Linked DNA regions of Homo sapiens. The protein of the gene in region 3 purifies or fractionates together with the protein of the main gene of each other region. This does not show direct contact. Each region holds a gene or a part of one and is shown on either strand. Other genes may lie near its edges. The genes, in order: CCNQ, AMPD3 and TTC14.

Region 1 (3,652 bases), on a different chromosome or scaffold from region 3:
GCGGTCTGTGCTAACCACATCATTTATGGTGAGGGCCTTGGGCCACAGAGTCCCAGCCAGATCTCTGGTGGCTGCAGCCCAAGTGACCAGGGTTGGCCACGCAGGCGCTCCATGCCCATGCAGCCCACCACCTCCCACGGAAACCCTGGCCGCCATGGCTGGGATGAGCTTCCCGGTTGTGACTCCGTGCTCGCTGTCCCACACTGTTGCCGAAAGAAACAGGTGCCGTCTGCACAACTCCCCTGGGCGAGGAGCCGCTGAAGCTCACGCCTGGTCTCTCCTGGAGCCCGCCCTGTGCGCCCTGAGCCTTCGCTCACGGTAACCTGTGTCCTTTCCTTGTAATAAACCGGAACTGGGAGTGTGACAGCTTTTCTGAGTTCCGAGCCCTCCCGGCACAGCACTGAGCCCCAGGGTGCTCTTCGGGATCCCCAATGATAAGGGAAATAGTAAGTAAAGCAGCAAGACCTTGGTCAGATGCTGCGTCTGTAGCCACCCTGTGCCAGAGCTTGCTGCCTGGGGAACCAATGTACCAATCAGATCAAGGCCTTGGGCCAAGTCAAGGCAAGAACTGGACCTACGTCCACCCCTGCTGAATGCTCCCAAAGAACCCTAGGTTCCTCTGTGGCCTACAACCTCAGGTAGGAGATGGTGACCTGGACGCCCTCCAAGTCCTGACTCAGGAAGCATAGCTGTCTTACCCTGGGCTCTGGGTGAAAAACAAATACTTCAGAAATGCACACTTGCTTGCTGGGGTCCATGACCTGTGTGCTCCTGGAGACCCCAAGCTCAGAAGCAATCATTAAAAAACATTCAGGGGCTGGGCATAGTGGCTCACGCTTGTAATCCCAGCACTTTGGGAGGCCGAGGCGGGTGGATCACTGGAGGTCACGAGTTCAAGATCAGCCTGGCCAACATGGTGAAACCCCGTCTCTACTAAAAATACAAAAATTAGCCAGGTGTGGTGGCAGGCACTTGTAATCCCAGTTACTTAGGAGACTGAGGCAGGACAATCACTTGAACCAAGGAGGTGGAGGCTGTAGTAAGCTGAGATTGCGCCACTGTACTCCAGCCTGGGCAATAGAGTGAGACTCTGTCTCTATTAAAAAAAAAAAAAAAAAAAAAAAAAAGCAAGGCCAAAACGTGGAAGCAGCCTGCATCCATCGATGGATGAATATGTTAATATCATATGGTCCATGCAGGCCATGAAATATGATTCAGCCATCAAAAGAAAGGACATTCTGAGACGGGGGCTCCAACATTGTGCTCAGCAAAAGAAGCCAGTCACAGAAAGGCCCGCACTGTAGGATTCCACTCCTGTGAGGGGCCTCAAAGGAGAGCCGTGAACTCTGTAGAGGACAGTGGAAGGTTGGGTGCCAGGAGCTTGGGGGTGGGGAGTTGGGGTTGAACGGGGCCAGAGCTTCAGTTTGGGAAGATGAACAATTTCTGCGGCTGGATGGTGGTGATGGCTGCACAGCACCGTGAATGTGCTTCCGTCCCTGGGCCGCACACTTAAAAATGGTGAACGTGGTACAATTTAGGTGATGTCTATGTCACCACAATTAAATGTAACAGTCCAGAACAGGTGGCAACCCTGGGGCACCTGACAGCAGAAGAGACACAGACCCAAGTCCTAGGAGGAGACACTGCTGGCCTCTGGGGACTCTGCCTTTTTGAGGGCAGTCCATCTGCTTATAAGACAAAAAGCAGCAGTGGCTGGAAAGAGGCAGGTTCTCCTTCTGCTCAGGAACAAGGGGATGGAGGGCACTCGGTGTGGCTCTGGACGTGGAAGTTTCAGCAGCATTGCGTGACGACCTGCATCATTTCTGACCCCGCTACTGTCCCTGCTCATCTGGCAAGTCAGAGTGCAGGCAGGCTTCTCCAGGGAAGCACATCAAGCTGCCATGCTGAGCCCGTGGCAGATAAGTGACAGGAGTCACCGTAAGAAGTGGCAGCCGAGAGCACACAAGGAAGAAAGGGTTTCAAAAGCCAGGCCGTGAGCTCTGCAGCACCCGGGTGGGTGAGGCCTCCCAGGATCTCACTCATCATGGGGGATCAGGCCCTCGCACCCCGCCAGCCCACAGGAGGCACCTGGATTCCGGAAGCTTCTGGTGCACAGCCCCGAGCTGGGAGGCAAAGGTCAGGTCAAGTTTAGCAGAGCCTTTAAGAAGAGCTGGCTGAACAGAAGTTCCACACCCCACAAAGGGTAACTTCTTCCCAGTCTGAACGATGACTGGGTGAGTCTGGGCCGCCAGCAAACAACTTGCTGGTAGAGCTGCTTCCTGGCTGTGCAGGGTTACCTGGGCTCGCACTCCTCTGGGAGGGGCTGAGCATGGGACGCAGGTGGTACTGCCACACCAGGTGAGGTTTACGAGCAAGCGCAGAAGACAGAGCAGAAAGGAAGACAGATGCAGCATAGCCAGGCAGCCCAGGGCCAGGGCCACACCCACCAGATGTCCCCAGAGGGTGTTTGCCCCCCCCAGAGTCCAACCCTGAGCACGAGGCAGCCACATTATGTGAAAGTCCCTGAGCAGCCCGAGCGTGGGGCAACACTGTCTACACAGATGGCCCTGCACCACCTGCACACTGCCTTGGGGACAGGGTGCTTCCGGCTTGAGACTGGGAACATGGGTGCATGGGTTCAAAGACACATGAGCACCCGCTTTGGTGCCAGGGAGGCGCGGGAGACTGGGGAAGAGATGCCCAGCCTCAGGCACTCACAGCTGACTGGGGATACGAGATTACACAATAAACACGCAAAAATCAGCAAATGCTGTGGTCTTCCACAAGGCACACGGGCCAGGGAAGAGAGGCAGGGCTACCTCTATGCAGAACAGCACCAGCCACCTGGAAAGCTGTCCTATGCACAGGCCTACAGAGTTCCACCATCTACCCTCCATGATCTACCTATTAATACCTATCAATCACCCGCCACCCTGCCCATCAGCTCTCTCCCCTATCCATCCAGGTGTCTGTCAACTAGCCAGCTAGCTGTCACCTACCTAGCCATCCAGCCCTCTCCATAAAGCACCCCAGATGTTTCTGATGGGAAGCCAGGTTTAGTAACCTGTGATCACAGTCAAGTTCCCACTCAATTCAGTAAAAGCGGTTCTCCGCTGGGGCAACCCTCCTCCCGGGACACCGGCGACGTCGGTGGAGGCCAGCACTCCTGTTCGACATCCGGGACCCCTAAATGGCAACTGTGCCGAGGGGGAGAGCCTGTCCCAGGCCATCGCAACAGGGTACTTTCGAGCTTCCATGTTCCCCAGCAGCCCGTATCTTTCTTCATGGATAATTAATAGAATTTGGTGAGCACTGCAATACAGAGACTTCCAGAGGGAAAGGGGGCACGTCCAGTGTGCCAAGCAGCCACCTCACCTGCCACCACGGCTTCTCAGCCTCGACCTCGGCGGGCACCTCAACTCCGTAGACCTGCAGGGCCAGGTAGAGCACCGCCACGGCGATGTGCTGGGCCTGGAAGCGGAGGCACAGCGCCCCATGGTAGCTGTCCCGCAGCAGGGCCCAGGCGGTGACGGCAACAGGGGTCCGCTGCCAGCTGTGGCGGTTCAGCCAGTTCTGGAGGGAAACCAGGTAGTGGAGCAGGTACTGCAAAGACACGTGTGTCAGCCTTTAGGCCCACCAGCTGCTCTCCTCA
Region 2 (3,652 bases), on a different chromosome or scaffold from region 3:
TCAAAGCATGCTGAACATAATTTAAAGTTTTCTCAATGACCCAGGATCATCACTGTATTATCCAGTTATGATCTCAGAGGTGTGTTATCCCTAAACTACTGTGCTTCAAATTCTTGTGCCTGCTTTTCATAATTATTTTGTTTCCTCTCTCACTGTTGACTGTCTAATAACAACAATAACAAAACAGGAACATTAATGGTGCTCCAAGCACTGCGCTAAGGATTTTTTGTGTATTCGCTCATTTAATTCTCACAAGGTATGTCCTTTTATTATTCTCATTTTGCAGTTTAGGAAACCAGCTCAGGCAGTCAAGAGCTTTGACCAAGGCCATTCAGTAGTAAGTGACAGGGCTGCCACTTGAACCCAATAGGTCTGACCCCAAAGCCCAGGCTTATAATCACCACACATCACCTCTGTGACCCTGCCTGTAGAAGTCTCTCTCCCTGCTTCTAATTTGCTTCTTTAAATCTGCCACGGGATAAGAAACAATATAGCCAGATTATAGAATTCTGTGTAAAGTAAGAATAAATAGGAGATGGGATGGGAGGTGCCACAGACAAAGAGGGAGCTGGGGAGAGGGTGTCCTCCATGAAAATGTTAACTTTCGAACATTTACATATAAAGGCACCTCTAGTGAGAAGAGAAACTAAAAGACAAAATTGGGTATGGGCAGACCCCAGAGGAGGATGCTGGGGCATCTGACAGTCCAGGGACCAAGCTTTTTTTCAGGAAAGAAGCCGATGGACAGAGCGGGAGCTTTGACCAGTTTCCCTCCATTTCATTTAGAAGCAACAATTACATTCTAGGGAGCAGCACCTAGTGTCATTCCAGGGTCTACAGACCAGGGAACCGAAGACTCCACCCCTACCTGAAGAGGGGATAGCCTTATGGTTGAAGTGTGGGGTCTAGATTCAAAAGATATGGGCTCTAGTTCTTGCTCTGTCATTTACTCACTATGTGTCTTTGTGAAAGTAAATTCAACTTCTCTGAGCCTTCGTTCCCTAATCTGCAAAATCAGAATACTAAGAATATCCATTTGATAAGCTCGATGTGAGAATTAAAGAATGAATCCAACCTACACAGGCTAGTACTTAGCCCATAGTAAGTATTCAATGGCAGGAGCTGCTATTGTTCCCTGTCTCAGCAGCAGGAAGTCAGAGAAATCACTTATATTTACTCGGGATGCACTATAACCAGACACTGTCCGAAGCCTTTTACCTGTGGATTCCCTCATTCCTCACAACACCCCATGAAGGTAGCTGTTAGCATCTCCACTTTATAGATGAGGACGAGGCTGAGGCCCAGAGAGGTTTCCTAATTTCCCCAAAGTCACAGAGCATGACAGTGAGTGGCAGAACACAGAGGTCCAAGAAGTTGCAGCCACCCTGATGTAGTGTCCATGGTGGCAATGGGGAGGCAGGATGTCTTCCTCTGCCAGACATCCACTGCCCACCAACTAAGTTCCACAATGGATCCAGTCCTCAAGGAGCGTCTAGTCAAATGGCGCAGACAGATGCAAACTAAGACACCATAACCTAGGCAAGGACAGAACAAAGTTTTTGGAGAGAAGTTTGCAGGGGAATTTCTGGAAACCACAGAGCACCATTAAGACTTAGAGTAAGAAAGCTTCCATTTTGCCCTGAGTCTGGGCATTGAGAAGAGCACAGTCGCTTCAGCAGATGTCAGGCCCAGTGTCACTCTGTAGTGGAAACTGGTTCCAGAAACTTATTGTTCCTAGTAATAAAAAATGCCAGGATTTCTTTTCCTCTCATTGTTAAGGGTCTCAAATGCTCAATTCATAACACACAGAAGGCCCTGCAGACCATTCACTTGATGAAGTCAGCCCTTCTGTTCCACCCACGGAGTGTGAATGAGGGTCTCTACAGTCATACTCTTCTTGACCCTCCAGGGATGAGCACACTGCTGGGGCTGGGGCCACCCCACCTTATCCAACACAAGGCTGGCACTCAGAGGTTAACCAATGGCACCAGTGACTCCTGCCTTTATGGGCTCACCATCCTTTCAAGGAAGGAAAGCACTGGTCTTATGAGTGGTGAAGCTCTGTTCTTGCCTTTACACCAGTAGTCAACTTTTTACTTCTTTCCAAACGAGTTAAGAAAATGCGAGCTTCTACACAACCAAGAAAGGAAAAGACTTGCCTTTAAAACTGAGGCAGTATCTAGTGTGATCACAGACTAGGTCGGAGAGGGCTCAAAGGTCTACCATGTCAACTATTGATGTTTGCAGGGTACCGGGCAGGCAGAAAATCTGATAAAGCCCAGGGTGAGATAAACTGTGAAAGGATGAGGGCTTCTCATTTCACTTAGACTCCAATCCAAACTTCTTATCAGGGAGCACAAGGCCAGTCTGATCTGGGCCCCACAAGTCCTCCAGCCCTGGTCACAGCACTTCTTCCTTTAACAGACCTCTAACCACATGGGCCTTCTGGAAGAAACTGGGGGGCCTTTGCCCTAGCTGATTCTTCTATCTGGAAGGCCACATAGCTAGCTTCTTTATACCCTGAAGCATCCGCTAAGATGTCATCTCCTTGGAGAGGCCTTCCCTGACTTCCCAGTCTAAAAAAGGATTTTTTCTCTCTCTTTCCCGGCCTTTCTCTCCCCTAACCCCATCTCATCCTTATTCATCTCTTTCATAGCACTTGCGCTGCTCCTGGGCCTGTTTGCCCTCAGATCCATTCCTCATCCTCTCCTGTGTTTCCCAAGTGTGCCAGCAGGATTCTGGCTAGGTTTGGCCCATGGCAGCCACTGGGAGAACCTGGAAGGTGCAGAAAGGGTCAAACGAGGTATTGCCTGCCTCCATCTCTGCCTTGGGAGGCATCTCTGCAGCTGCCACCTCTTCCCCTTGGCTCCAGTTTCCACTGGAAAGTCCACCACAGTTCCACCTTCCCCAGGGCGACTCCACCTTGGCTCCAGAAACACTACTGCTTTCCTTGTCACTCCTGTCCTGGGTAGTAGCTGCTCCTTACTGTGTCTAATCTCTGAGCCGCCTCTCTCTCCCCTGTTTGGTTTCTCAGCTCTCTACCACCTGTGTAACCAATTCCCTGCATTAAAATTCTAATACTTCATTGGTTTCTGATCTTCTAGTTGGACCCTGACTGATACAGCACTTATTATAACTTGTAATTTTTAAGTTAATTTGTCCAGTTACTTAATTATTGTCTAGACCCAGGGACTCTATCTATCTTGTTCATTATAACATCTCCAGTCCCAGCACAGCACCCGGCAAATAGTAAGCTGTGTTCATTAGTAATGCAAAATGCTTGTCAAGTGATGAGAAGAAATACAATTGCTGTCTCCTAAGAAATCCTCAAATTTCCAAAAAGAAAAGAGAAATGCCATTTGGAAATGGTGTGTATTTTTTCACATCAGCAGCAAAGTGGGTTTTGATCTTTTCAGTGCAACAGAGGCACCGAGACATCCCTCAATAAATAAGAGGTGAGTTAAGTGGTCTTGGTTAAGGAACCAACACAGCTCTAGGGACATACCAGTCCCCATGAGGTGCCTCATATCAGGACACACACCCACAGCCTGCCTGGGTCTGCATGACTCTATGTACACGAAAACCATGCCTTGGGAACAAACCTTTTTGCGGTCTCCACAGACTTCTGCTCTGCCAGCTCCTTCTGCAGCTC
Region 3 (3,386 bases):
AACTGGGCTGTGCTATTTTTTTAAATGGTTTGTATTTGAACATGGTGATTCCTCCTTCACTTCACCTTAACGGAATGTCTTTATTTGAATTTTATTTGTAAAATGTGTCCTGTTTAAATTTTTCAATCTTTAAAAATAATTTTTATGTACTTTTTTTTTTTTTTTAACCTTTCTTGCACTCTGGGTCATGGGTACCACTGCAATGGCTTCCCCTTTTTTTATGGGATACCAACTGCAATATGGTCCTCAATGCTGTTCTGGCCATTTCAATGACTAATGCCAAACATCTGTATGACTAATTTTTTTATGTTAAAAAAATACTGTTTAATGCTGGCTCTATGGTGATTTGGTTTTACTAAATTGGGTTTCTCGTTGGGGGTGGTCTTTTGAATACTGGGTTTTATATATTCTGCTATTTTTAACGTGTGGTTTTTTTCGATATCTGGGTTCTAAAAGAAATCTTTGGAATTAAGAGAAAAACAAGCTGAAAAGGAAGAAAAGCAGAAAACAAAGAAAATAGAAACAAGTGCAGAAAAGTTGCGTAAGCTCTTAAAAGAAGAGAAGAGGTAAACTATAATATTCAGTATTTTTAAACTTAAGGCAACTACTGAATTGAACCCAAAGTGCCATACTGGAGGTAAAGTAAATAAAAATATGAAAGTATTTCAAGTGCCAATCAGTGACTGTTAAGAATCTTTAGCAAATATGTGTTCCATGTATTTTCTTATTAAAGAGATGAAGTGGAATTTAAGGCTAGAATTCTACAAAAAAAGAGTATCTTAGAATTAAAATATAGAATAAGTTACTTTAATTATGTTTTAGGAAGAAATATTTTAGAACTAGAGCAGTGGTTCTCAACTAGGGGTGGATTTATTCACCCGGGGACATTTGACAAGATGTGGAGACATTTTTGATTGCCATAACTGATAGGGTGCTACTGCATCTAGTGTATAATGGTCAGGGATGCTCTTAAACATTCTGTAATGCACAGGTCAGCTCCCACCCGCACCCCCACCCCCTACCAAGAATTATTTGGCTGAAAATACCAATAATCAGGTGAAGAAACCATGAACTAGAGGTAGCCAAATAAAAAAGTTGAGTTCTCCTTTATGTGTTCAGTAGTCTTAAGTTTTTAAGGTAGTGTTGAAAAAAGTCTGTCTTTCAGAGATGATGGATTTGCTTACAATGATACCTGTCTGCAAGCATTTTTTCCCCCAAAAGTGCTTAATAGTAAAATTAGATCTTGTAGTAGCCGAGATTATTGTATCATTTATCTGAACCACAGCTTTTATAAAATCTTTAAAGGAAACAAATAGGGCCCACATCTTTATGAATAATTTAGAAACATTTTTGTATATATATGACAAATGAACTGTTTTTTTTAGGCTAAAGAAGAAAAGAAGAAAATCAACTTCTTCTTCAAGTGTTTCTTCTGCTGATGAATCAGTGTCTTCATCATCATCCTCTTCCTCTTCTGGTCACAAAAGGCATAAGAAACATAAGAGGAACCGTTCAGAGTCTTCTCGCAGTTCCAGAAGGCATTCATCTAGGGCATCCTCAAATCAGATAGATCAGAATAGGAAAGATGAGTGCTACCCAGTTCCAGCTAATACTTCAGCATCTTTTCTTAACCATAAACAAGAAGTGGAGAAACTACTGGGGAAGCAGGATAGGTTACAGTATGAAAAGACACAGATAAAAGAGAAAGATAGATGCCCTCTCTCTTCATCTTCACTTGAAATACCGGATGATTTTGGAGGTAGGTCTGAAGATCCAAGAGATTTTTATAACAGCTATAAAACCCAAGCAGGTAGTAGCAAAACAGAAAAGCCATATAAATCAGAAAGACATTTTTCCAGTAGAAGAAATTCCTCAGATTCCTTCTGTAGGAATTCAGAGGACAAGATTTATGGTTATAGGAGATTTGAAAAGGATATAGAGGGAAGAAAAGAGCACTATAGAAGGTGGGAACCAGGTTCTGTGAGGCATTCTACCTCACCAGCAAGCTCAGAATACTCTTGGAAGTCAGTTGAGAAATACAAAAAATACGCTCACTCTGGATCACGTGATTTCAGTAGACATGAGCAAAGATACCGTTTAAATACAAATCAAGGAGAATATGAAAGAGAGGACAATTATGGGGAGGATATCAAAACAGAGGTTCCAGAAGAAGATGCACTAAGTAGCAAAGAACACTCAGAAAGCAGTGTTAAGAAAAATTTACCTCAGAATTTACTGAATATATTTAATCAGATAGCTGAATTTGAAAAAGAAAAAGGAAATAAGTCAAAAAATTAATACACCAAGGATATCGGCACCATTACACAAAATGCCATTAAGTGAAGTTTTTGGTTGTATTAGTCATAACAGTTGAGTGCAGAAATCTCTGCTTCTAAAATTATTTGTAGAGATTACAGGAAACAAATGCTTTTAAGTAAGTTTTTCTCAAATTTTGTTTCAGTTCTAGGTCCCTTGTCACAGCTTGGTTTTTAGACTTTTTATGTATATGTTTATGTACAGTATATTACTCTTGACAGTTTGAATTTCTTCACCTAAAGATAATTCTCTGAAAGTACTGTTTCTTCATTCTATTGCGGTATATGAGAATTCCTGGGTGCATCTTATTCTGCTGTTTGAGAGAAAAATTTGTGCATTGAACACTTGGATCATTTTTATAAAAATTAATTTCATTTTCTTTTCTGTTAAATTAAAAATCGTCAGCTTTTGAAAGATTATATGTTCGAATGTTTCTTGAACACTTTTATATTTATCAGTTTAAATATTACATTTTTTGCCCAATTTTTTTTAAAATTTTTAAATGGTAGATTATATGTCTTAATTTTCCTCTAAAGCCCAATTTGATTAAAAGTGGTTTGTGAACAGTCATTGGCTTCCACCCAGCATAAGTGCCTTAGGAATAAGATCATAAAAGTTGAATAGGAGCCCATTTTGCTTATTTCTCCATTATTTTTTACCTCATTGCTAGCATAGCCATAAAAAGCTTTTTAACTTTAAATATTTACAAGGCCCTTAGGGCCTGTATTCCACGCAAGGGTAAATCAGAAAAGAAAAAAATCCTTTTAGCAAAAACATAGCAGTAGCAGAGAAGCACATTGTAAATCTGGCTTTTCTTTAGGGAAAGAAAATTGGGAGACTCTCCTAGTGTAGCAGATGTTCAGTCCAGAAGGCACTAGGCATGTCGTTAAATCTGACCTGCATTTCTTCTTACCACCTCCTGTGCCTTGATGCTTCTCTGATGACCCCTTTCTCAGAGTCTGAATAAATAACTAGACCAACTAGAGCCTGGTTTTACTAAGAATAATAAATTCCAGCAGCTAGAGCTGAAGAACAAAGAGACTTGGATTATAAAGATCCTCCCCAAATTG

What was found.
Region 1: the proteins of TTC14 (region 3) and CCNQ purify together in Homo sapiens (affinity purification with mass spectrometry; one large-scale study listed by BioGRID and IntAct). This does not show direct contact.
Region 2: the proteins of TTC14 (region 3) and AMPD3 purify together in Homo sapiens (affinity purification with mass spectrometry; one large-scale study listed by BioGRID and IntAct). This does not show direct contact.

The regions. Positions count from the first base shown.
Region 1 is NC_000023.11:153,589,131-153,592,782, forward strand, and holds part of CCNQ (cyclin-Q), read right to left. Parts: intron 3,604-3,652; coding exon 3,376-3,603; intron 1-3,375. UniProt on the Homo sapiens protein: Activating cyclin for the cyclin-associated kinase CDK10.
Region 2 is NC_000011.10:10,461,691-10,465,342, reverse strand, and holds part of AMPD3 (AMP deaminase 3), read right to left. Parts: coding exon 3,603-3,652; intron 1-3,602. UniProt on the Homo sapiens protein: AMP deaminase plays a critical role in energy metabolism.
Region 3 is NC_000003.12:180,608,245-180,611,630, forward strand, and holds the end of TTC14 (tetratricopeptide repeat protein 14), read left to right. Parts: exon of another isoform or gene 1-456; coding exon 457-566; exon of another isoform or gene 567-1,385; coding exon 1,386-2,298; 3' UTR 2,299-2,886; downstream 2,887-3,386.